Homo sapiens: one gene and its partners. The protein of the gene in region 1 interacts with the protein of each later gene in a biochemical or structural test. Each region holds a gene or a part of one and is shown in the gene's direction. Other genes may lie near its edges.

Region 1 (3,500 bases):
CAATTTGTTCCAAAAAGAAAACCAGTCTGGCTTCTTGAGAGGATTATATTTTAGAGTTTCCTGATTAAATACATCTTCTTAAGCTACATTTTTTTAAACTAAGTTTTGTAGATTTTGTTTGAGATTATAAGACATATATTCATTGTTGGGTGTGGTGGCTCATGCCTGTAATCCCAGCACTTTGGGAGGCTGAGGCGGGTGGATCACAAGGTCAGGAGTTTGAGACCAGCCTGGCCAACGTGGTGAAACCCCGTCTCTACTAAAAATACAAAAGTTAGCTGGGCATGGTGGCGCGTGCCTGTAATCCCAGCTACTCGGGAGGCTGAGGCAGGAGAATTGCTTGAACCTGGGGAGGTGGAGATTGCAGTGAGCCGAGATTTCGCCATTGCGCTTTCAGCCTGGGTGACAGAGTAGAACTCTGTCTCGGAAAAAAAAAAAATACATATATTCAGTCTTCATCGTGATCCTTAATGGAATACACACTGCATCCAGGACACACTGGAAAGATTTTGTTGATTTGCTCCAGAGTTAATAGGTTTGAATATCAGCCATCTAGAAAATTTTCAGTATTCTCAAGTAAAGGCAAAGCATTGAACCTTGTTTAATGCCCCAACACTGAGGTGACTGACTGTGCTAAGATGACCAGAGTCCAGTGGACCCCTTTCCATTGCTAAGTTTTTCTTAGGGAGGGTCTGGGGATGGAAAGAGTTTCAAGTCAGGTTTAGACAGTGATGGGAATGTTTTGGTCTGGATGCACATGGTATTCCTTCAACGTAGTCCTCAGGCTTTGAGTGGATATGCTAACATGAGGTCTGAGATTGAATAAGAGGGGAAAGGAGGAATAAATTCCACTATGGCAAGTCAGGGACTGTGTGGGCTTCCGAGTTTCCCTTTTTATTTTGAAAGCTCCAGGCCGGTATTTGGCTCTTCTCAGATGGTATATAAAGCTGGTACTGACTCTAAGGTGAAAAAATGCAATTGAATTTTTTTCCAGGACTTACCCTTCTACTAATTCCTTGTTTTCTTACTTTCTTTTCTGCCCTTTTCTTCTTCCATCATCCAGTTGGCCAGTTCTACTTCTTAATCCGGAAGAGAATCCACCTGAGACCTGAGGACGCCTTATTCTTCTTTGTCAACAACACCATCCCTCCCACCAGTGCTACCATGGGCCAACTGTATGAGGTAATGGTTCTGGTTGCACAATACTGGATGCCGTCCAGTGCAGTCTGGCATCCTCTAGCCCTTGTTCTAGATGCGTTGATAACACATCTGAGAAGTGGGGCAGAAGGTGTTATTTATCCGGATCCTCTTACATATGGCAGTGTAAGGCTCTGAGAGATTAGATACCTCTTGTTTTTTAGGGATTAGCCACTCTACTAGATTTAATCCTTCTGAAATCTTGTCTGACTATAGTCTTGTCTGACTATAGTGTTTTAATGCTGGACTGTTTATTGAAACAGCAGGAAGTGATTCCTGATAGCAAAAGTTCCAAAGCGTCAGCCCATCGCAGTTCCTGCTATTCTGGTTGGTAGCATGTAATTTGTAATGCATTCAGAATCCAGTTCATTATTTTACTCCCATTTAGCAACAGATTGAGAAAGCACGTAATAGTAAAGCCAGCTCCTTCTAACTCTGAGGCCAGCCTCTGCCAACTGAAGGATTCTCCCCACAGTCAGCTTCTTCTATGAACTCTGAAGTTTTGGCTTAAGACAACCACATTGATACTAAACAAGGGGAAACTTTTCTTAGAACAAAACTAAAACTGTGAAACAGATTCCACATTATCTGGGCACAATGAATCAGATAAAATGAAATATAAAATTAAGGCAAAGTCTGTAAATGGATTCATGTCTTAACAGATAAACTCAGGAGGAATAATTTTTATGTGATGTGGTTTAATTGGAAGTGTCAGAATCTGAGGAAACTATAGTGAAGGACTTTATTATTACTGAAAATATAACCTGGGATTATAACTATTGTTTTTTGCAGTATTTTGCATAAGATGCTTCCTTCTCATTGTGCTCCGTTAATGAATTACGTAAACTTCTAATAATCCTGAATCTTTTTTTGCATAGCATATATTCCCTGTTAGTATATGTCCCATTATATATCCATCTGTGGTATCTATGTTCCCCTTGCTAGGAGTGAGCTCTTTAAGAGTGAGGACTGTGCCCTAGTCATCTTCATATCCCTGATACCTATGTGTAATATGTTTTCAATGAAGGATTTTTGTTTGTGAACTCAGAGCTCAAAGTGTAATTCCAACCACTTCTCCCTATCCTTTGCTCCTCTTTTAAATGGGGACTAATGATACCTTCCATACCTGCTTTACAAGGTTGTGTGAGGCTCAGCATCTTAGAGCTAATGAATGAATATGTTTTCTAAACTGTTGTCTTATCTCTTCCCCTAGGACAATCATGAGGAAGACTATTTTCTGTATGTGGCCTACAGTGATGAGAGTGTCTATGGGAAATGAGTGGTTGGAAGCCCAGCAGATGGGAGCACCTGGACTTGGGGGTAGGGGAGGGGTGTGTGTGCGCGACATGGGGAAAGAGGGTGGCTCCCACCGCAAGGAGACAGAAGGTGAAGACATCTAGAAACATTACACCACACACACCGTCATCACATTTTCACATGCTCAATTGATATTTTTTGCTGCTTCCTCGGCCCAGGGAGAAAGCATGTCAGGACAGAGCTGTTGGATTGGCTTTGATAGAGGAATGGGGATGATGTAAGTTTACAGTATTCCTGGGGTTTAATTGTTGTGCAGTTTCATAGATGGGTCAGGAGGTGGACAAGTTGGGGCCAGAGATGATGGCAGTCCAGCAGCAACTCCCTGTGCTCCCTTCTCTTTGGGCAGAGATTCTATTTTTGACATTTGCACAAGACAGGTAGGGAAAGGGGACTTGTGGTAGTGGACCATACCTGGGGACCAAAAGAGACCCACTGTAATTGATGCATTGTGGCCCCTGATCTTCCCTGTCTCACACTTCTTTTCTCCCATCCCGGTTGCAATCTCACTCAGACATCACAGTACCACCCCAGGGGTGGCAGTAGACAACAACCCAGAAATTTAGACAGGGATCTCTTACCTTTGGAAAATAGGGGTTAGGCATGAAGGTGGTTGTGATTAAGAAGATGGTTTTGTTATTAAATAGCATTAAACTGGAATTGACAAGAGTGTTGAGCATCCCTGTCTAACCTGCTCTTTCTCTTTGGTGCCCCTTATCTCACCCCTTCCTTGGAATTTAATAAGTCTCAGGCATTTCCAATTGTAGACTAAAACCACTCTTAGCATCTCCTCTAGTATTTTCCATGTATCAGGACAGAGGTGTCTTATGTAGGGAGGGGGCAAGTATGAAGTAAGGTAATTATATACTACTCTCATTCAGGATTCTTGCTCCCATGCTGCTGTCCCTTCAGGCTCACATGCACAGGAATGCTACATGATGGCCAGCTGCTTCCCTCCTTGGTTATCATCCACTGCAGCTGCTAGTTAG
Region 2 (3,500 bases), on another chromosome or scaffold:
CAAAAATGCAAAAACTAGCTGAGTGTGCTGGTGGACGTCTGTAATCCCGGCTACTCAGGAGGCTAAGGCAGTAGAATCACTTGAGCCCAGGAGGTAACGGTTGCAGTGAGCTGAGATCACGCCACTGCACTCCAGCCTGGGCGACAGAGTGAGACTCCATCTCAAAAAAAAAAAAAAAAATTAGCCGGGTGTGATGGTGTGCACCTGTAGTCCTAGCTACATGGGAGGCTGAGGCATGAGAATCACTTGAACTCAAGAAGTGGAGGTTGCAGTCAGCTGAGATCACGCCACTGCACTCCAGCCTGGGCAACAGAGACTCTGTCTCAAAGAAAACAACAACAACAACAACAAAACACTATTTTTACTGAGACAGCTCTTGATTTGGAATGTAAGTTCTGGAACAAGAGGGAGCTTTAATAATTAAGCTTCCTGGCCTGCTGAGAAGCTCAAGTTGTTTCCCATAGTTCTTCCCTGGCTTGAGCTGCTTGAATTTACTGATTGATTGAAAGGTTGGAGGCTGTCATTGCCAGTGCTTTGCAAGTCAGGTAACCATGACGGGAGGCAGACAAAAGCTGTAGCTTTTTCTTTTTTCCCTTTGCAGCATAGGCTTATCTCTTACAGTTCATGTTGTCTTGGCTGCTAAGAGCTTCATATGTGAGACCCAAACACACAGTGACATACACCTGCTCGGGCACCTGTTTCATTTTTGGCATTGAGGAGCTGGGATGTTGTTACTTTGTATATAGACAGCAGCAAATAAAACTTGCAAGAGGAGCTTCTCCTTTAAGGCCAAGAGAATTTCGAACTTCAGTTCTCTTAGAGTTTGAATGGTGAAGACTTACTGGATTTAAGCTATATCCCTCTGAGGGCAGGACCTGGTAGTAGACCTAGTACGTGATATCAGTCAGCACTGCTTTCCCTTTGATTTTATCGTAAGCCTTACCACAAAGTGGATCTGTCTGGGTTTGGGATTTTAATAGAATATGGCATGAGAAAGCAGAGTTTATTGCTATTTGCCATGCTGCTAGTCGTTATACTATCGTGGTGCTTTAAAAAGAAGAATACTGACCTGTGGTCTTTCCTTAACATAGATAGGAAAAATATCTAAAAACAAAAAGAAAAAACTGAAAAAGAAACAGAAGAGGCAGGCTGAGTTATTGGAGAAGCGCCTGCAGGAGATAGAAGAATTGGAGCGAGAAGCTGAAAGGAAAATAATAGAAGAAAACATCACCTCAGCTGCACCTTCCAATGACCAGGATGGCGAATACTGCCCAGAGGTGAAACTAAAAACAACAGGATTAGAGGAGGCGGCTGAGGCAGAGACTGCAAAGGACAATGGTCAGTGGGGCCTGGAACCTGGGCTGCATGGGGTTCTCAGAGCTCCATTAGTAGGGTTCTGCCAGGTCAACATGGGGGCTGATTTGTGCTGCTGCTGCAGATGACAAGGATGATTCTCTCCAACTCCCTATTGGGAAATATGGGAAATAGCCTCGTACTTCATTTGTGAACTGTATGCCAGAAATATGTTAACATTTCAAAATAGTTTTTAAAAATGTAAAATAATTGAGAAATTCCATGTTTCTATCATGCTAATGATGGTGCTTTATTTTGTCATTAACTTTTTACCTAACTGTAATGCACCACAAGTCTGTTTCTGAAGATTATAGAGGGTAGAAATGGAAGTGCAACTTTATTTAGAAAGAGTTATTTTCCCTTAAAGCTAACTTTTTCTTATAAGAGCAGGCCAATTACTAAATGAATGAAAAATGAGATTTAGAAAACCTGAAGGTTTTACCCCAAAAGCCAAGAGGTGTTTACCAGGTGGTACATAAGCATATTCAAAATGTATTTTATTGATGGAGATAAGTACTTAATGAGGCTGTATTAAGGAGAGTAACAAGTTCTAATTCTTGACCCATCAAATTCTTAAGGTGAAGCTGAGGACCAGGAAGAGAAAGAAGATGCTGAGAAAGAAAACATTGAAAAAGATGAAGATGATGTAGATCAGGAACTTGCGAACATAGACCCTACGTGGATAGAATCACCTAAAACCAATGGCCATATTGAGAATGGCCCATTCTCACTGGAGCAGCAACTGGACGATGAAGATGATGATGAAGAAGACTGCCCAAATCCTGAGGAATATAATCTTGATGAGCCAAATGCAGAAAGTGATTACACATATAGCAGCTCCTATGAACAATTCAATGGTGAATTGCCAAATGGACGACATAAAATTCCCGAGTCACAGTTCCCAGAGTTTTCCACCTCGTTGTTCTCTGGATCCTTAGAACCTGTGGCCTGCGGCTCTGTGCTTTCTGAGGGATCACCACTTACTGAGCAAGAGGAGAGCAGTCCATCCCATGACAGAAGCAGAACGGTTTCAGCCTCCAGTACTGGGGATTTGCCAAAAGGTAAGTGTTTCTTCCCATCAACTGTCTGCCATCGCTGACTCCAGGGACGTGCCTTTAACAAATGCTGTGAAGGAATTGGCTGGAAGTGGCCAAGCCCTGTGTGTGTGTACTGATCAGTTTTATTACTTTTATACTCCTGAAGAAGTAATGTGATTTAAATAAATTTTCTATGCCATTAGGCTATTTCTTGCTCTCTGCATACCAAATCTTATTTCTGACCAGTTTTCATTTTTAATATATTTAGTCAGCAGCATCATTTGCAAAAACCTTCCAGTTTTAGCAACTTACACCTTTCTAGAATGTGTAGTTTAGTTTAAAATTCGTATCTTCTTCCATCTAATGTCATTATATTTAGTTTAGTTTAGTTTTGTTTTGTTTCTATTCAAGAAAATTATGCCTCCTCTTTGACTCTATTGAGAAAGAAGTGTCATATTGTCTTTTGATAGTTGTTCCTGATTATAGGACCCTACTATTGGTAACTGGCCCAGGATTGTAATTTTCAAGGAATTGGCATGGATTTAAATGTGATGACAGATTATAGATTGGCTCTTGTGTTCTTGTCTACCTAAGAAGGCTTGACTTATTCAAAGCCTTATTTTGGGAGTGAATGCCAAGTGACTCTAGTAAGTGAAAACTGGGTAACACAGCTGGTTTCCATACTGGCTTATGGGGGAAAAGCTCTGAAACCTCCCTCTGCTCCCTCTACTGACAAGACTGTTTAACACACAGCGAGTAAAATTGATGAGCCAGCCCTGCAAACAGCCCGACATTCTGCAGCCCCTTTGGTTCCAGCAGTCTGGAATTGCACGCCGAGTAAGCTGGCTTTGTTACGCACTGGCTATGATGAATCCTCCTAAGGATTTGCTTTCTTTACTTGGCTGGACGTGGTCAGCTCCTGTTCCCCTTTCCAGGGAGTGTTTGAAGGTGCTTACATAGAATGTAGGTTAATTTCTGGGAAAGGGCAGTAGTGAGAGGTACCTTATCCAGACTTATTGTTGCTGTTGCAGTTCAATTTTTCTCTTACTTGAAGTTTCTTTTTTTTTTTATGAGATTGAGTCTTGCTCTGTCACCCAGGCTGTAGTGCAG
Region 3 (3,500 bases), on another chromosome or scaffold:
TAAATCTCTATCTCTGTATCTGACATGGCATAGTTTACTGTGGTGGAGGGAGAACCCAGTGTTTGTGTTTGTTTTCCAGTGATAGTGCTGACTTTTTTTCATTACTGCTTTTACATTTGGGTGATCTTCAGAAAATGATAGAAATGAAGAACTGCTACATTTCTTAAAGTTTAGCGTCTTCTAGTTTTATGTGTGAGATCTTTCTAATGTAATAGCATCTTGGGAGTTATCGCCTGCAAAACCCATCCTTTTAGTTCCAATGCATCACATAATTTTATGAACAAGCTAAATTATTTGCAGCATATATGAATATTCTTAAAACTAAATTGCTTTACGTGTGTAGAAAGATAAGCAAAAATAAAACACTGTACATATTTCGTTTTCCCTGTAGTTTATTTTCTTTAAACATTTTTTTCTGTGACTTCAAAATTCCCAGACACTTTACATTTTCACTTCAGGCATGAGTATTAAATGTCTGTGTGTTCTGCGCCAAGCCAGGGCTGGGAGCTGAAGATGAAGAGACACGATGCAACCCCCACCCCACAGCAGCCGGCCTCGAGGGGCACCAGACCTCGTCCTCCATGACCACACAGGGCCTGGGGTACCTGCCAGACGTACCCCAATGAAAGCGAACTGAGGTCTCCATCACCTTCGCTCTAGTTTGAGCTTATGGAACCCCAGCTGTAGGTCCCAAGCACAGTATCTTGAATTAATGAATCAATCCATTAATTAATGCAAATAATTTGCCCCTAAGGGGTTGCGAGAGGGTTTAAGCCAACTCCTGCCTGGAGGCACGTTGCTGGGGGAGGTGTGTGGTGGCCCCTGTGTCCTGGACTCTTGCCTGGTTTGAAATCGGCTCCGGCCCTCCAGGGGACCAGTCTTCTGTGGCCACGGCAGCAGGGAGGGGGCCCTCCATCCGTGACTGCCAAAGCGAGTCTCTGTGTTCTGTCTGGTTTCTGGAAACCTTGGCCTGCCCTGTAGGGTGAGTGGGCCACAGTGTGCTGGGAGGAACAAGCAGGTTTGGGGGATTCTGCTGTTGGGTGTGGTAAGAAGGCTGGGGGAGGAGGCGGGAAAGGATACCACCCTCTGATGGCCCCACTGGGTGGGCCGGGCCAGCAGGCAGCACACGGGGCAGCAGCTCTCACAGTCACAGCAGCCCCGCGGTTCAATGAGCAGATGACAGAAGGGGGCACCCATGGGTGCGGTGGGGCCTCAGACTCGAGACCTGCCCTGTGTTGTGAGCAACGATTCTGAAGCGCAGCTCCCGCAGGGTCCACTTGGGAAGATGTCAGGAGCCCTCGGTCTTCTGGGCCCGTCCGCGGCGCAGCCACGGCAGTTCAGGTGATGGCCCCACATGCCCATCTCTGATCTAGTTTTACCTGACTCAGTTTCCTTGAGAGCCCAGGGGCCCCAGCAGTGGGAGGACCTGTTCGGCTGACTTCCTTAGGCAGGTGGGGAAGAAAGGCCACCTGCCACTCACCAGGCCCAGGGCTATGCCTGACGCAGTAGAGGGCTCTAGAAAGGCCAGTCAGGTTTCTCTGTGTGAAGTTCCCAGTGGGGAGGGATTGTGCTGGAACCCTCCAAAGGAGCTTTATTTACTTAGACCTGGTGCTTCTTGGAGGAGGAAGTGCCTCTGGATTGATTGCCTCTAATAGTTTATGTTCTGAGCTCAAACGGGAAGGCAGGTGCGGTGAATGCGGCTGAGTCTCTGTGGGGTGCTGCAGTTGGGGTCCAGAGCTGAGTCTTGCCTGTACTCCGGTTTTATTTTAGCAGACATTTGCTAGACATTAAATCTCAAGAGAGTGTCAGGCGCGATGGCTCACGCCTGTAATCCCAACACTTTTGGAGGCTGAGGCGGGTGGATCACCTGAGGTCAGGAGGTCAAGACTAGCCTGGTCAACATGGTGAAACCTCGTCTCTACTAAATATATAGAATTAGCTGGTCATGGTGGTGGACGTCTGTAATCTCAGCTACTCAGGAGGCTGAGGCAGGAGAATCGCTTGAACCCGGAAGGCAGAAGTGGCAGTGAGCCGAGATCGCACACTGCACTCCAGCCTGGGTGACAGAGCGAGACTCCGTCTCAAAAAAAGAAAAAAAAAAGAAAAAAGAAAAAAAGAAAAAATCTCAAGAGACAAGATTTAACCTGTGAGGTGGCTGAATCCATATAATAAGATATTTTGCAATTTGGAATGTAACAAACTCATAAAAAATAACAGAATAAATGGGGTTGTACTGCTGAACTGCAGACAGCTGCACAGTATGCTGGTGAGAACATGGGCCACAAAGCTTGGGTTCTAATCTCAGCTCTACCACTTGCCAGCTGTGTGACCTTGGGCAAATTACTTAACCTCTCTGGGCCCCAGTTGCCTCTTCTTTACAATGGGGTAATACCACTATTCATTTCAGAGGATTTTTGTGAAGATTAATTGCAATAAAAGCACCTGAGAAGCATTAGCTCAGGGCCAGGCCCATAGTCAGTGTTTTAATAAATGCTGATGATGTTATTAATAGTACTGAGAACCCAAATGTTTCCTAACCAAAAGCATAAACTGAACCAGTACTTTTCAGGAATACAGTGAGCTGGTTTAAACCACGCGGAAGCCCCATGCTATCTAAAATCATCCCAAAACAACCAGTTTTAGTAAAGCCCAGCCCCACGCTGTAGGGAAACCCAGCCTTGTTATTCTCCTGCCTTCTTTATCCATGGGAAAACGAAGGCTGAGAGAGGCTTGGTGGCTTGGCCAAGGTCACACAGCGAGGAACCCCAGTCAGTGTGACCTTGGCTGTCAGGACGATGATGACTTACTGCCTCTATTGAAGTGGAATGGAATTTGATCATGAAAATGCTTTCCCATCCAAGTGGAAGTAGAACTGTGCAGTGGGGTTCATACATTCATTTATTCACAGGTGTTTACAGGGCATATTCAGCCGTGCCTGTATGTGTGTTTAAGCTTGGTGCGTAGGTTTAAATGACTCCCCCATGACCCCCGTCCCCCTCTGGGTAGTGTGGGCAGGGAGAAGTGTGGCGATCATCACATAACCTGTTCCACCAGCCCCCCGTCCAGCTCCGACGCCGGCCTGCGGTTCCCGGACAGCAACGGCCTCCTGCAGACCCCACGCTGGGACGAGCCGCAGCGGGTGTGCGCCCTGGAGCAGATTTGCGGCGTGTTCCGCGTGGACCTGGGCCACATGCGCTCCCTCCGCCTTTTCTTCAGGTAGGAAGCATCTCTGGGCGCCTCCTGGGAGTTGGCCTGTGTGTGTTTTCCCTGGCAGCCTGGGCTTTGCAGCCGGTGCAGTGCACGGCTTGGGGACACAGGGCCCTGGATGGAGTCTTCCCAAGCGTCTGCTTTCCTCCCTCGCTGATCTTGTGGGCAGTGATTCCCCACTGCAGCTCCCTGACAGTTCTCAGGCTGGGTGAGCTACCGAACTCACTCCCCTACCTTCAGCGTGATGGTAGCCAGCGGTTGCTTGCAACTCTGGCTTGGGAGAAGAAACCAAA
Region 4 (3,500 bases), on another chromosome or scaffold:
GCCAGTTAGGGTGATTTGCACCATCCTGGGGTCACACAGGGTGCAGGGGACATCCAGAGAAGGCACGTGACCCCTCTGGGGAATGGAGATTCCTTCCAGGAAGAGGTGATGCTGGAGCTTGGCACTGAGGGACTCTTGGGAGTTTTCTCTTCTGGCAGAGAGAGCAGCCCGTGCAAGCCAGAGGCAGGCGGCCCCCGTGTGTTTAGGGAGCCGCTGGCCTTTCATTGTAGCTCAAGTGTGGGATTTTGAGTGAAGAAAGGTTGGAGGTAAGATAGGCAGGGGCGAAGGACAGACCCGAGGGGCCTCGAGTGCCAGGTTGAGGAATAGGGCCCTTACCCTGCAGGTCGAGGGGTGCCTAGGAAGGTTCTGGAAAGGTACATGTCCACTGGGCCCCCTTCCCATCTTACTCATTTGTGCTTCCAAGGAATGTGAGGCCAGGGGCAGAGGGGTGGCTTGTGGCGGGGCCCTCAGGAGATGCCTGTGCCGAAGGAACATCCTGGGTTGTGGTTGATAAGGCTGACTCTGGCTTCCCACGCGCTTCCCCCAACACAGTGCCGTCTCCCTAGGTGCAGAGCCCAGCTGCCCCCAGGGCTCCTGGGCCTTCTCAGTGAGTCTGGGGGAGCTAAAGTCCATCCGCCGCTCCAAGCCAGGCCTCAGCTGGGCCTACCTGGTTCTGGTGACCCAGGCTGGAGGTTCCCTGCCCGCACTGCACTTCCACCGCGGGGGCACCCGCGCCCTGCTCCGCGTCCTCAGCCGCTACCTGCTGTTGGCCAGGTGAGCTCTCTCCCAGTGCTGGGCCTTAAACCGGGCCCAGTCCCACCATGGCTGCAGCGTGACCCCTCGGGGCTGTGAAAGAAACACAACTCACACTGATTTAAAGGCAGGCAAAGAGTTGACCAGCACATATAACTAAAAAGTCAAAAAGGAGTATTGATTTCAGGCAGGACCCAGGTCCCAAAATGTTAGAAACAGTTATCCTTTTTCCCTCTGAGTTCGTTATTCTCTGGGGCCCCAGTATCCGTGGCTTAACAACCCGGCTGGATAGAAGGCACCTCTTTCCCCACGTTCCAACAAGATCCCAGAGCTGCTTCTCATTGGCTCGTCCCTGAGTCAGTCACACTGGACCGGAAGGTGAAAGGCCCTCATTGGCCAGCCCCGAGTCATGTGCCCACCCCTGGGATCCAGCTGTGGGCCTCCTTTAACAGCATTCCCTGAAATGAGGGGTTGCCCAGGGGTGGTTGGGACGCTGCAGCTGGAACCGATGTCGGCCGAGCACAGACAGCCTGGGACACTGGGCCCCTACCTGTGCATCACCTGTGCGTCACCTCCCGCCTCCCAGCTCCCCGCAGGACTCCCGCCTCTACCTTGTCTTCCCCCACGACTCCTCTGCTCTCTCCAACTCCTTCCACCACCTGCAGCTCTTTGACCAGGACAGCTCCAATGTGGTGTCAGTGAGTGTCCCCAGCAGGAGGCCTGGCGGGTGTGGGCAGGGAGGGACGAGAAGGGGCGGGCCGTGACCTCCCTTTGGCCTCGTCCCCAGCGCTTCCTCCAGGATCCCTACTCCACCACCTTCAGCAGCTTCTCCCGAGTGACCAACTTCTTCCGGGGTGCCCTGCAGCCACAGCCTGAGGGAGCCGCCTCCGACCTTCCCCCGCCACCCGACGATGAGCCCGAGCCTGGATTCGAGGTCATTTCCTGTGTGAGTAGTGAGTGGACCCTCCCTGTTATTTCTGGCCGTGTCTCCCTGGGCGCATGATTTCATTTCCCTGGGCCTCAGTTTCCTCTTTGGTAAAACGGGGATGGTAATGGGACACCCTCAGGGGGTGCATGAGGAAAGCGCTCATGGCTCTGCCAGACACTGTGAGCACCTGCTCACCCTTATTGGGGGACCCCTCCTAACTGGGGGATGACTTGGCTGCTGAGCCCCGGAAGAGGCTGCTGCCTGCCCCTGAATGTTAGTCATCCGTCAAGCTAATAAGCTCTCTGAGCTTGTGGACTGAGGCTGGGTTGGGTCCCCCCACCACCCCGCCGAGCCCCAGGCTCATTTGCTCTTTGCCTGCAGGTGGAGCTGGGGCCTCGGCCAACCGTGGAGCGGGGCCCTCCAGTTACAGAGGAGGAGTGGGCACGCCACGTGGGCCCTGAAGGTCGCCTGCAGCAGGTCCCTGAGCTGAAGAACCGGATCTTCTCGGGGGTGAGTGCCAGGACAGGTGGAAGAATGGGGCAGGGCCAGAACAAGGCCCCACTGAGCTGCCTGCCCTCCTGCACCCCCAGGGTCTGAGCCCCAGCCTGCGGCGCGAGGCCTGGAAGTTCCTCCTAGGGTACCTCAGCTGGGAAGGCACAGCTGAGGAGCACAAGGCCCACATACGCAAGAAAACGTGAGTTCTCAGGAGGCCCTGCCCTGCCAGGCATGACACCTGGTACCTCCTAGGGCACCAATGGGCAAGTTCTGTGGACGCTGGTTGTGAACCTGCTGTATCTGGGCACCATCCTGCGCCTGTGGAATACGGCAATGATCAAGCCAGACCCATCCTCACCCCTGTATGGTCTGTCTCCATTGCAGTTTTCATTCCTGTGCCATACTGTTTTAATGATCACAGTTTTGCAGCATGTTTTATAACCTAGGAGGGCCCGTCTCTCCTCATTCCTGGTGTAGGTTATATACCTGCCAGGCACTGAGGATGCAGCAGTGCTGGACGATTCCCTGTCCCTGGTGCCCTGTCCAGTGGGGGGTGACAAATTTTCATCAAAAGGCCACAAGGCTATGTAGTGAGAGATGCCAGGAAGGTGAAGTGTAAGGGATAGTGGCAAGAATGACGAGGTGACCTGCTTGGGTCTGTGTGGTCAGGGAGGGGCTCTGCAGGGCTGACCTGGGAGGTGGCGCCAGGCTTGGAGGTCTCTGGGTGTTGCAGACAGTGGCGGCCTCACATCTTGTTTCCCTCTGTCACTCAGGGATGAGTATTTCCGCATGAAGCTGCAGTGGAAATCTGTGAGCCCTGAGCAGGAGCGGAGAAACTCACTTCTGCATGGATACCGCAGCCTCATCGGTCAGTGTCAGGGGTGGCACTTAGGGTGGATGGGAGCAGGGAACCACAGGAGGGCCTCAGGCATAAGTGCGAGTGGGAGATAGAGGGAGCCCCCTGCCTCCCCAAGACCAGTGAGAGGGCATCTTGGGGGAAAGCTGCATGGGCTGTTGGGGAATGGCCCTGGGGGAGCAAGGCCAGGGACAGGATGGGAAAGAAGGGGAGCCCAGCTCCCTTCAGGCCCAGTCTCAGTTCTGTCAATGCCTGGTGATCTTGGCAAGTGATTTTGCCTCCCTGGGCCTCAGTTTCCCCTACTGTGGGAGGATATAGCCAGCTGGTGAGTGGGAGGCCTGGCGCCTCACAGCAGGAGCATCAGTGATAGTTTCTAGAACCAGCTCTGCTTCTCCCCCAGAGCAAACCCCGAGGCTGGGGGCTGCCAGCAGGAGGAGCAGTGGGGGCTGGCACTGGTGGCCAGCAGGG
Region 5 (3,500 bases), on another chromosome or scaffold:
AGATAAGAAAAATAACAGGTTAAATGACTTACCCAGGGCTACAGAGCAAGTAGCTAGGTTGGGATACAAACCCAGTTCTGTCTTACACCTATGTTACATTATAGTAGTTTTATTAGAAGCCTTTTCCAACCCTTCAGAGCCCCTATGTTTATGTCTGGAGAATAGTTGGAAGCCAGAAGTTTATAAGGCCCTTAAAGTAGATCATTGTCTATGCACACTGATGTGTAACCTTTGTGACATTCCCTCCATCTTGTCTTTCTGGTAAAACAATCAAATTTAAAAATCATTTCTAGGTGCCCTTACCAACCTCTCAGCCAGACTTTGTCTAAAGCTAGGGAACTATGAAACATCCTTTAAGTTAGTAATTTTATGGCTGGGAGTTGATACTGGGATTTGAATCCTTGCTCTATTACTTATTGGTTTTGAGACCTTGGACAGGCTACTTTCTCTGAGCATTGGTTTCCTTATTTTTGAAGAGGAATCACACTTACTTTACATGGTTATTATGAGACTATGAGAACATATAAAAAAATGCCTGACAATAAATAGTAGTTGCTTTAAGAGTGTTAGCAATTATGAGAGGAAGGCAGTGCTGGAAGAGAACTAAGTGTTGCTTTGTCATATTTATTTATTTATACAGGGTCTTGCTGTGTCACCCAGGCTGGAGTGCAGTGGTGCAATCACAGTTCACTGCAGCCTCAACCTCCTAGGCTCAAGTGATCCTCCCATCTCAGCCTCCCAAGTAGCTGGGACCACAAGTGCATGCCACCACACCTGATTATCTTTTAAATTTATTGTAGAGATGGTGTTTCACTCTGTTGCTCAGGCTCTTTGCCAGATTTTGATAACCCTAAGTAGTCTCTGCTAGTCTCCCCAAAATTCTCATCCCATTTTGTATATTTCCTAGGATCTCCTTGATCCTTTAATCATAATCTCATGATTAAATGAACAGATGTTATATGCAGAGAAAGGAATTGAAAGAGAGAGAGGGTTGAGGTTAGTTGGAGGTCCCTGAGAAGGGGCTATTGATTTTTCCTTTGTCTTATATTCCTTGAGTCATACTGGCAGCGTAGGTACTACTCAAATGTTTGTGAAAGATGCAAGGGAGTCTTTCTAGGTCCTGCAGTTTTAGAGGAAGACAGAGACAACAGGCAAGCATGTTTTCCAGGAAACCCTATTATTCATTTAGCCTGCCCTTGACATAGTTTAGCTATGTTTAACTTAGTAATTTAGCTAAAGTTTTCTTTCTCTACAAACATACTTCCTTCTGGATCGTTTTGTTTGCCCCAGACTGGTACAACTTCAGGAGCATGCCTGTGTTTCCCTATAAGCCCCTACTTGTTGAGTTTATCTTAGTTGTCTGCAGGTGCCTTAAATGCCCTGAGTAATCTAAACTTCATCAGAATCCTCTCCCACACACAGGAGTGGATGTCAGGTGATGACCTCACTGAATTCGTTAAAGTCAGTCCTGCTAACGAGTGGCCTTTGGTGGCACAGTGATAGTTTTGCACTTGATTAGCATTCTGTTAGAATGCATGAGGAATAAAGTTTAGAAAGCTGACATAAAAGGAAATGAGATAAACCTTGCAAAAAACCCAGTCAAACCAGGGGAGCGTGTCAATAGTAGGATGGACCTTTATGTCTTGTGAAAGGAAATGCAATATTTTACATGTTGTCTAGTTTTTAGGGGAAAGCACTGTTTATGTCTGGTTTTTGCTCAAAATTGTATCACCAGTACCGTTCACAGGGCCAGACACATAGTAGGTGCTTAGTAAAGATTTGTTTTGTTAATTGCTTAAAGTTCTCCAGTTTTGCTCATGGCCTAAGCCACCAAAGGCTGATATAGGTAAAGGAAATGGAGATATCTAGAGAACCACCCCATGGTGGCAATTCAAGCATTAGGTGAAGATTTGAAACCTTAGATCATCTCTAATCTTTAGATTCTGGGATCAGGTAAAACAATTTCTAGGAGGGCTTAGAATTTTTATTATTTAGGTTTATGTATCTGGGGCCTTGGGTACAGTCTGCTGAAAAGTGCCTATTCATTTCTTCTAATAGGTTGGGTGGTGGCAGCAGCAGTTGCTGCTACTGCTAATAATAATAAAAACTATTATTTATGTATAGTTAATTGCATGCCTGGCTTGGTACTGTACTTAGTGCTTTACACACATAATCTCATTTAATCTTTGCAATAACTTTGTGAGGAAGATACTATTTTAAAGTCCCTTTCCATAGATAAACTGAGAACTACAGAAGTATTAATAACTTGCTCACGTCTCCACAATAAGTAGTAGAGCTTGAATTCAAATCCAGGAAAGCCTGATCCCTCAGGCCTGCTTCCTTAATCTATATAATACTGTCCACTCCTAGTTCGTGTCTTTTAGTCCTAGTTCTGTTGTGTGATTTGTGGTCTTAATTTCCCTCTCCTGGTCTTAGTTTTCTCATCTATTTTACAACTTGAGATTACTACCTTTTCTTCCCCTTTTGCCCAGGCTGAAGTACAGTAGCATCATCACAGCTCACTGCAACCTCCACTTCCTGGTCTCAAGTAAGGAGATTGCTACGAATTCTAGCATTTCATACTTAGTCTCTGCTTGAAGGAGCTACAGCAGCTCATTTTCTGGGCAAGACAAGTTGTAAATTCATTTACCCATCAGTTTTTAGCCTGTATGTCTGGCATTCTCAATCAAAACTCTTCAAAACTGACCAGCCCTTTTATTAATCTTTATATGCCTTTATATGCCATGAAAGGAAAGGTTGTTCATGCTTTCAAAATGTAGTTTGTAAACTGAATGCGTTATTAATACTAGTACTAGTTATTGTTAATGCTGTTTCTGGTTATTATTTATTTAGCATCCTTTTATTGTACACCTAAGGGTATCAGGCTAAGTACTTTATATGCATTTTCCATAGTCATTACAGTACTCTTTTTATAAACTAAGAAAACAGGTTTAGACAGGTTAAATAAATTGCCTGCTTCCCCACAACTTGTGACAGTGCTAAGATATGATCTCAGTCCTATATAACTTTAAGGTTCATTCTTTTGTTTTGTTTGCTTTTTCTACTACCTTGGTTACTCATTTCATGGAATGGGGAAAACCCAGTGGTGCTAGAAGAGGCGAGATTAATATGGAATATAATTATGTAATTTTTCTGAGTCTTAGGGCAGCCAGAGTAGACACAGCTTAAGGGACAGATTCTCATCGGGAGCTGAAGAGATGTGCTAGTACAGTATGGTATGGGATGTACAGTATTAATCATTAGGTCAAGGGATGTGGGAAGATGGTAGGCTGATGTTAGATGAGGTGGGAGGTCAAGAATTAATGGCACAAAGTGCACAACAGGAAACAGACATTCAAGGGATCATGAAGGGAGCCAAGATGATACATAGCATGTTGGATACTCATTCTGATTGGTTGTACAGTTGATAGCTGGCAGAAAATGGGCAGCTTACTTAAAGATTTGGAATGATAAGACAATTCCTTTTATTTGTGTAGTCT
Region 6 (3,306 bases), about 59 Mb from region 1:
GTGGGCAGATCACAAGGTCTGGAGTTTGAGACCAGCCTGGTCAATATGGTGAAACCCTGTCTCTACTAAAAATAAAAAAATTAGCCAGGCGTGGTGGTGGGTGCCTGTAGTCGCAGCTACTCGGGAGGCTGAGGCAGGAGAATCACTTGAACCCGGGAGGTGGAGGTTGCAGTGAGCTGAGATTGGCGCCACTGCACTCCAGCCTGGGTGACAGAGCGAGACTCCGTCTCAAAAAAAAAAAAAAAAAAAGATGTAAGAAGTAAATGGTAATAATATATTGATGGGATAAACATATCGTAAGGTCTTGACATGAAATTGCTCTATACCCAGAAGAATGTTTATTAAGTACACCAACTGTATGTCTATGAAGGTGACCACATGGTGGCTCCCATCCTTAAAAGCTCAGTGGTTGTCAAAGGTGTATGATGACATTGGTTCTTGCAAGTGTCATTAAATAAATGTCTTGCACTGGGCATGGTGGCATGTGCCAGCAGTTTGATCTATTCAAGAGGCTGAGGCAGAAAGATTGCTTGTGCCCAGGAGGTTGTGCTATGATGGTGCCTGGTGAATAGTCATTGCGCTCCAGTCTAGGCAAGGTAGCAAGACACTCTCTCTTTAAAAAGAAAGAAAAGTCTCATGTAGAAGGATGAAGTGAAAAGTTTCATAAGCCAAGTTAGTCTTATTTTTGGATATGACGTCCCAAATATCTGTTGTGTCTCACATCTAGAACACAAAGCAGTCTCAGAATTTTGCCAGCCAAAAGTAAAAAGAACTTTATACAAATTATGAGTATAAATTAGTAGTTTCAAAGACCAGAGTCTTTATGAATTTATTATAAAATAAATAATAGAGCATTGACAGATTTATCAGTAAGGCATAGGAAAAGAAGGGTTGATTGATAATATATGCAATTCACATTATGAAAGGAGTAGTCAGCTAGAGAAAAGGATTTTGAAATGGAAACCTGACTTTTGCTTAGTTAGGAAATAGGGAACGAAGTGGCTGACCTGTTCAGTTTACAGCATGGAAGATGGAGGGAAAATAGGAATAGAAATGAGACATAAGGACTAAATTAATTTGTTCTTATTAAATTTGGTCTGGGAAATTCTTAGTATGCATTTCTTGTTTTTTTAGGCCTTAGGACATTTCATTTGTGATAATTAGAGATATCAGGTGCTTATTAAGCAGTTCATGAAGTGTATAGTGGTTGACTTATAGGACAAATATTTTCATGTCTTGTGCTGGGAATTGTATCATGAGGTCTTAGTCTTATAGGTTGGATTCAGAAGAGAATCTGAATTTAAACTCAAAAGTAACTGCTTTAAGACTCAGTTTAACCTTGGGAAGGTAGTATTGTATAGTGTGTGCTTATAGGTCTGAAGCCAGACTGCTTGAGTTTGAACCCCAGCTTTTTATATTCATCCTAGTTAGGTCTTTGGATAGGAAGGTAAACCTCTTGGCCTCATTTTTATCATGTGTAAAATGGGATAATAATGGAGCCTATCCAAGAGGATTATTTTAAAGATTAAATAATTAGTCGATATGAAGTATTTAAAAAGAGTGCCAGGAATATAATCAGCAATCAATTTTTAAAATGTGAAACACATTACCTATCATTATCTATCCATTACTGCTTATTAGAAAACAGGAATTTTAAGCCTGCTGTGCATTTAACTAATACATGTTTATGTTTATAGGTGGTGAAATTGCCTCTACCTTTGATCACCCAGAACTGGTGAAGCTTGGAAGTTGCAAACTTATCGAGGAAGTCATGATTGGAGAAGACAAACTCATTCACTTTTCTGGGGTTGCCCTTGGTGAGTGATTATGTAGATCCTGGTTAGGGTGTCTAAATTCTTGCTAGGCTCTGTTGAAGTAAAGGTTATTGTAGTTACTAGAATAGCATATCTTACAAGTCTTAACTCTTCAGAAGCATGATACATACTTTGTTTCAGTCTCTTGAGTCAACCTCATATTTACCGTGTCTTTGTGAACAGTGCATGTTCAACAGTTTTTTTTCCTTGATAACTTAGAACCATTATGAGCCTTGATTGTTGGAGAATGTATAATACAGGAAGACAGGTCAGCTTTCAGAACCCAGTAATATAACCAACACCGGCATAAATAATAGAAGGCAAACTTTTTATCCCTAAGTGGTCACTGTGTCTTTTAATTTTAGGTGAGGCTTGTACCATTGTTTTGCGTGGTGCCACTCAACAAATTTTAGATGAAGCAGAAAGATCATTGCATGATGCTCTTTGTGTTCTTGCGCAAACTGTAAAGGACTCTAGAACAGTTTATGGAGGAGGTAAGCATTTAGAAAATGTTGAATATATTTTTAATTTCTTAAAGTACAATATAAGTCATAAGTGGTTTTAATGGTTCTTACAGAAATCTTATATTGCTTTTGCACTAAATTTTAAAATGCTTGGCATATCTTAAAGTCAGTAATTCAGTATCTTGGAGACAACTAAGCATTGCAATATTTTATTGGAATTTTAATCTTTAGGCTGTTCTGAGATGTTGATGGCTCATGCTGTGACACAGCTTGCCAATAGAACACCAGGCAAAGAAGCTGTTGCAATGGAGTCTTATGCTAAAGCACTGAGAATGGTAAGTTAATCAAAATGAGAGATCCGAACTTAAGTTTTGTGGTTATTGATAGTTTTAAAATGAGTAGAAAATGAACTGGTTAATACTGCTTTTAAATTTGATTCTGGAGTTTCTCCTCTTCGTGAGCAGTAACTGAAGCAGATTTTACATTGTTCCTAAATGTATAATTTTAAAAAGCTATCCTAGTTAGGAGTAAATCAGTGGTTCTTACAGTAGAGTGAGTAGTTACTTGTTTTCTTCATTTTCATAGTTGCCAACCATCATAGCTGACAATGCAGGCTATGACAGTGCAGACCTGGTGGCACAGCTCAGGGCTGCTCACAGTGAAGGCAATACCACTGCTGGATTGGGTAAGCAATCAAGGGGAACTTTGTGGCCGTTGTTAAAAGTAACTCTTTTCACTAAGCTTTTTTTTTCTTTTGGAACATAAAGAGTTACAATAACCGTATAAAAGACTCTTTTGGACTTTGTCCTCATAATCATTACATGTGCTGGGAAAATGTGTGTGACTTTATATGCTCAGCATTTCCCAAACTTTGTTATTCCATAAGACATGTAAAACTGGTTAGAAGATTTGTAACTATTTGGTATATAACGACTATAGGATTTAAATATAAACAATACTTACATTCTGAAAAATAACATAAACTATTATGTTGTTTATACAATCAGTATTAACTTCTAATTTCATAG
Region 7 (3,500 bases), on another chromosome or scaffold:
CTCGCTCTGTCGCCCAGGCTGGAGTGCAGTTGGCGCGATCTCGGCTCACTGCAAGCTCTGCCTCCCGGGTTCATGCCATTCTCCTGCCTCAGCCTCCCGAGTAGCTGGGACTACAGGCGCCCGCCACCATACCCGGCTAATTTTTTGTATTTTTTTTTTTTTTTAGTAGACACAGGGTTTCACCGTGTTAGCCAGGATGGTCTCGATCTCCTGACCTTGTGATCCGTCTGCCTCAGCCTCCCAAAGTGCTGGGATTACAGGGGTGAGCCACCGCGCCTTGCCGTTTTTTGTTTTTTGTTTGTTTGTTTGTTTTTTGAGACAGAGTCTGGCTCTGTCATCCAGGCTGGAGTGCAGTGGCACAATCTCAGCTCACTGCAACCTCCACCTCCTGGGTTCAAGCGATTCTCCTGCCTCAGCCTCCCGAGTAGCTGGGACTACAGGCATGCACCATGACACTGGCCAATTTTTGTATTTTTAGTAGAGACTGGGTTTTACCATGTTGGCCAGTCTGGTTCTCAAACTCCTGACCTCAGGTGATCCACCCACCTCGGCCTCCCAAAGTGCTGGGATTACACGCGTGAGCCACCATGCCCAGCCTTAATTTTTGTATTTTTAATAGAGACAGGTTTCACTATGTTGGCCAGGCTGGTCTCGAACTCCTGACCTCAAATGATCCGCCCTCCTTGGCCTCCCAAAGTGCTGGGATTACAGGCATGAGCCACCGTGCCTGGGCTGTTTTGTTTTGTTTTTATTTAGAGAAAATCCCGTTTGCTTACTTGCTTTTTTTTTTTTGCTAAATAAACAGAATTATTCTGTCTCCTAAAAAACACCTGAGACTGTAATTGTAAATAGATATATATGTTTAGATAAACCTATTGAATTATTGAGAGACAAGAATATCATGATATACAACCTTTTTATTGTTTTTGGATGAGACTGTTGTAGGCTCAATCTAAATCATTAATCTTACTCACTTTTTTTAATAACATGAATTCAGTAATACTATGTGGCTGATTTGACTATTAAGATTTTCTTCTGTTGAATTGATTGTATAAAAGAAACTTTTTATTGATAAAAGGTATATAGATGTTGAAAAATGTGATGTTAAAAATGCCTTTTCTTACCATTGTTTCTCATCCTGGTTTTTCTGATTGTATTTCCCCTGTTTCTTCCAGGAGGTTATCATCTTGTGAAAATTGGAGATCTATTCAATGGGAGATACCATGTGATCCGAAAGTTAGGCTGGGGACACTTTTCAACAGTATGGTTATCATGGGATATTCAGTAAGTTTTAGTGGTTCTGTAAAAGAATTAGTTAGATGATGTCTAAATGTGTTTGTCTGAGTTTCCACTGCTGATCCAGGCTTCAATCTATCTCTAGCCTGATTCATTTATCAGAATTTTGTTGTTGGCAATAGTCTCTGTATTCTTGGAGAAACCACTTTTCTTTCGTGAAGAATCAGTATTATATATCTCCCTTTCTACTATAGAGACAGGAGTGATTAAATTAATGCTGGTAAAGCTTTTGTCGTTTGATTTTTTTGTGATTTTTATCATTTTCTTTTCACCGAAGTATTTCTTCTGGCTGCCTATGGGAAAATATTACAGCTTTTAACCTTTTAGTTTTTGCCTATATACAGATATATACACAGAACACTTGGAATTTGGTAATATCTTTCCCCTTATTTATCCTCATTTTGCAGTTTTGCTTGTAACTCAGGGAGATATTCAAAAGAAGGATTTTAACTCAGAGAAAATGTTCAACAACTGAGATTATCTGAGAACAGATTTTTTATTCTTCCTATAAATGAAATCTGGCCAGTTAGTGTCATTAACAAGTATAAATGTTCCCATAGAAGTAGCTTGTTTGGGCTACAGGGAAACGTGAAATCAATATTTGTCCTTTTTAACCATCTTATAGCTAAATCTTAGCTTCCTAAAGTAAGGGTAGGCTATGTAGTCTTAATTGCCTGTGTTTGTTTCTTAGGGGGAAGAAATTTGTGGCAATGAAAGTAGTTAAAAGTGCTGAACATTACACTGAAACAGCACTAGATGAAATCCGGTTGCTGAAGTCAGTGAGTATTAGATTATATGTATGAATGTGAAGAATTATAAATAAATCAAGTTTCATTGAATAAAAACACACCAAGTGGAGGCTCTTTAGCATGGATAATTTTCTCTATAAAGTTCTAGTAACCTTAAAGAGGTAAAGGAAGACAACAATATTTACACATACCATGCATGTAGTAGGGAACTGGTGGCAAATGCTATGATGAGAATTCTTCTTACACGCATGAACCAAAAAAAAACCTTTCAAATGAATAAAAATATTCACTGAGCATGTTTTACAGGCCAGGTAGCTACTGTCATAATGTTTTTTTTTCCTACTATGGTTAAAAGGAAAGTTGTGTAAATAAATGTATAGCATCTTTTTTGTTGTTTTTCAAATATGTTATAGAATACATAATATAAAAATACTGTATTTACTGATTCCATTTATACCTGGAAACTGAGATAAATTCTATCAAAAATGTATTTTTAGTTCTGTTTTAAATTAGGAATATGCCAGTGTGGTAGAAGGAACTTAAATTCAGAATTAGAAAACCTGGGTTTAGGTCGCCTTTACCCCGGTATGTCCTCCATGTTACCATTTTTTTCTTTCTGAGTCTCAGATTTTTTATTCATAAAGTGAGAATGTTGCACCAGGAGATTTCTATGGCAGTAGTTTTCTTTTTTATTTTCAACTCCTGGCCTCAAGTGATCTGCCTTAGCCTCCAGAGTAGCTGGGGTTACAGGCACAAGCCACTGCATCTGGCTTAAGACAGTACTTTTCAGAATGTCCGTTTGTGACAAGATAAGGAGCCTTGTACCTACCCAAAAGTAAATCAACATACTGTTTTCTTCATTGAGAAAGTTTTTCCATGAAAAAAAAAATGTCCGCTGAAAAAAACAGTGTGGTTAGTGCTGTAGTTGATTTGCATCCTGCAAAATCTTCTTAGTTCCTCATAGCCTGGTAATCATCAGTTAATTTGGAGGCCACACTTTGATTGATATCAGGGAGCAAAATAGTTTAATTAGAAAAATAGTTCCTGTTGGTTGTATTTCCTCTTATGAATTGACTATTTAAGATTTTTCTCCATTAAAGCTATTGAAATTTTAGTATATTTTAAAAATAGATTTATGTGAGCTCTTTCTTGTAGTTAATTTGCTGTAAGTATTCTTCCCCTACCATCTGGTTTATTTCCATGCTTTACCTTGTGCTAAACACTGTCTCTTCCCCACTACAGGTTCGCAATTCAGACCCTAATGATCCAAATAGAGAAATGGTTGTTCAACTACTAGATGACTTTAAAATATCAGGAGTTAATGGAACACGTATCCTTTTAAAAACCTATTTGAGAATAAATCATCCCAATCCCAAAGAAAGGAACTAGATTTGTTGTGTAGATGGCCTTGGTGTCTTTTCTAAGGCAAACTATAATAAAATTACCTCTTTTATT

What was found.
Region 2: of the proteins of GABARAPL1 (region 1) and SRPK2, one has a biochemical effect on the other in vitro, tested with the Homo sapiens proteins (one large-scale study listed by BioGRID and IntAct).
Region 3: the proteins of GABARAPL1 (region 1) and TBC1D16 form a complex in vitro, tested with the Homo sapiens proteins (one study listed by BioGRID).
Region 4: the proteins of GABARAPL1 (region 1) and TBC1D17 form a complex in vitro, tested with the Homo sapiens proteins (one study listed by BioGRID).
Region 5: the proteins of GABARAPL1 (region 1) and TRIM32 form a complex in vitro, tested with the Homo sapiens proteins (one study listed by BioGRID).
Region 6: the proteins of GABARAPL1 (region 1) and CCT2 interact in a test that uses a peptide from one of them, tested with the Homo sapiens proteins (one study listed by BioGRID).
Region 7: of the proteins of GABARAPL1 (region 1) and SRPK1, one has a biochemical effect on the other in vitro, tested with the Homo sapiens proteins (one large-scale study listed by BioGRID and IntAct).

Annotation. Positions count from the first base shown.
Region 1 is NC_000012.12:10,219,377-10,222,876, forward strand, and holds part of GABARAPL1 (gamma-aminobutyric acid receptor-associated protein-like 1), read left to right. Parts: intron 1-1,063; coding exon 1,064-1,182; coding exon of another isoform or gene 1,183-1,335; exon of another isoform or gene 1,336-1,606; intron 1,607-2,410; coding exon 2,411-2,476; 3' UTR 2,477-3,500. UniProt on the Homo sapiens protein: Ubiquitin-like modifier that increases cell-surface expression of kappa-type opioid receptor through facilitating anterograde intracellular trafficking of the receptor. Involved in formation of autophagosomal vacuoles.
Region 2 is NC_000007.14:105,140,922-105,144,421, reverse strand, and holds part of SRPK2 (SRSF protein kinase 2), read left to right. Parts: intron 1-1,091; coding exon 1,092-1,338; intron 1,339-1,931; coding exon 1,932-2,414; intron 2,415-3,500. UniProt on the Homo sapiens protein: Serine/arginine-rich protein-specific kinase which specifically phosphorylates its substrates at serine residues located in regions rich in arginine/serine dipeptides, known as RS domains and is involved in the phosphorylation of SR splicing factors and the regulation of splicing.
Region 3 is NC_000017.11:79,952,373-79,955,872, reverse strand, and holds part of TBC1D16 (TBC1 domain family member 16), read left to right. Parts: intron 1-3,054; coding exon 3,055-3,216; intron 3,217-3,500. UniProt on the Homo sapiens protein: May act as a GTPase-activating protein for Rab family protein(s).
Region 4 is NC_000019.10:49,880,702-49,884,201, forward strand, and holds part of TBC1D17 (TBC1 domain family member 17), read left to right. Parts: intron 1-566; coding exon 567-774; intron 775-1,339; coding exon 1,340-1,451; exon of another isoform or gene 1,452-1,473; intron 1,474-1,540; coding exon 1,541-1,699; intron 1,700-2,062; coding exon 2,063-2,191; intron 2,192-2,271; coding exon 2,272-2,375; intron 2,376-2,560; exon of another isoform or gene 2,561-2,949; coding exon 2,950-3,044; exon of another isoform or gene 3,045-3,500. UniProt on the Homo sapiens protein: Probable RAB GTPase-activating protein that inhibits RAB8A/B function. Reduces Rab8 recruitment to tubules emanating from the endocytic recycling compartment (ERC) and inhibits Rab8-mediated endocytic trafficking, such as that of transferrin receptor (TfR).
Region 5 is NC_000009.12:116,690,305-116,693,804, forward strand, and holds part of TRIM32 (E3 ubiquitin-protein ligase TRIM32), read left to right. Parts: intron 1-3,500. UniProt on the Homo sapiens protein: E3 ubiquitin ligase that plays a role in various biological processes including neural stem cell differentiation, innate immunity, inflammatory resonse and autophagy.
Region 6 is NC_000012.12:69,595,459-69,598,764, forward strand, and holds part of CCT2 (T-complex protein 1 subunit beta), read left to right. Parts: intron 1-1,697; coding exon 1,698-1,817; intron 1,818-2,179; coding exon 2,180-2,308; intron 2,309-2,509; coding exon 2,510-2,613; intron 2,614-2,863; coding exon 2,864-2,963; intron 2,964-3,306. UniProt on the Homo sapiens protein: Component of the chaperonin-containing T-complex (TRiC), a molecular chaperone complex that assists the folding of actin, tubulin and other proteins upon ATP hydrolysis.
Region 7 is NC_000006.12:35,886,599-35,890,098, reverse strand, and holds part of SRPK1 (SRSF protein kinase 1), read left to right. Parts: intron 1-1,175; coding exon 1,176-1,284; intron 1,285-1,987; coding exon 1,988-2,075; intron 2,076-3,287; coding exon 3,288-3,375; intron 3,376-3,500. UniProt on the Homo sapiens protein: Serine/arginine-rich protein-specific kinase which specifically phosphorylates its substrates at serine residues located in regions rich in arginine/serine dipeptides, known as RS domains and is involved in the phosphorylation of SR splicing factors and the regulation of splicing.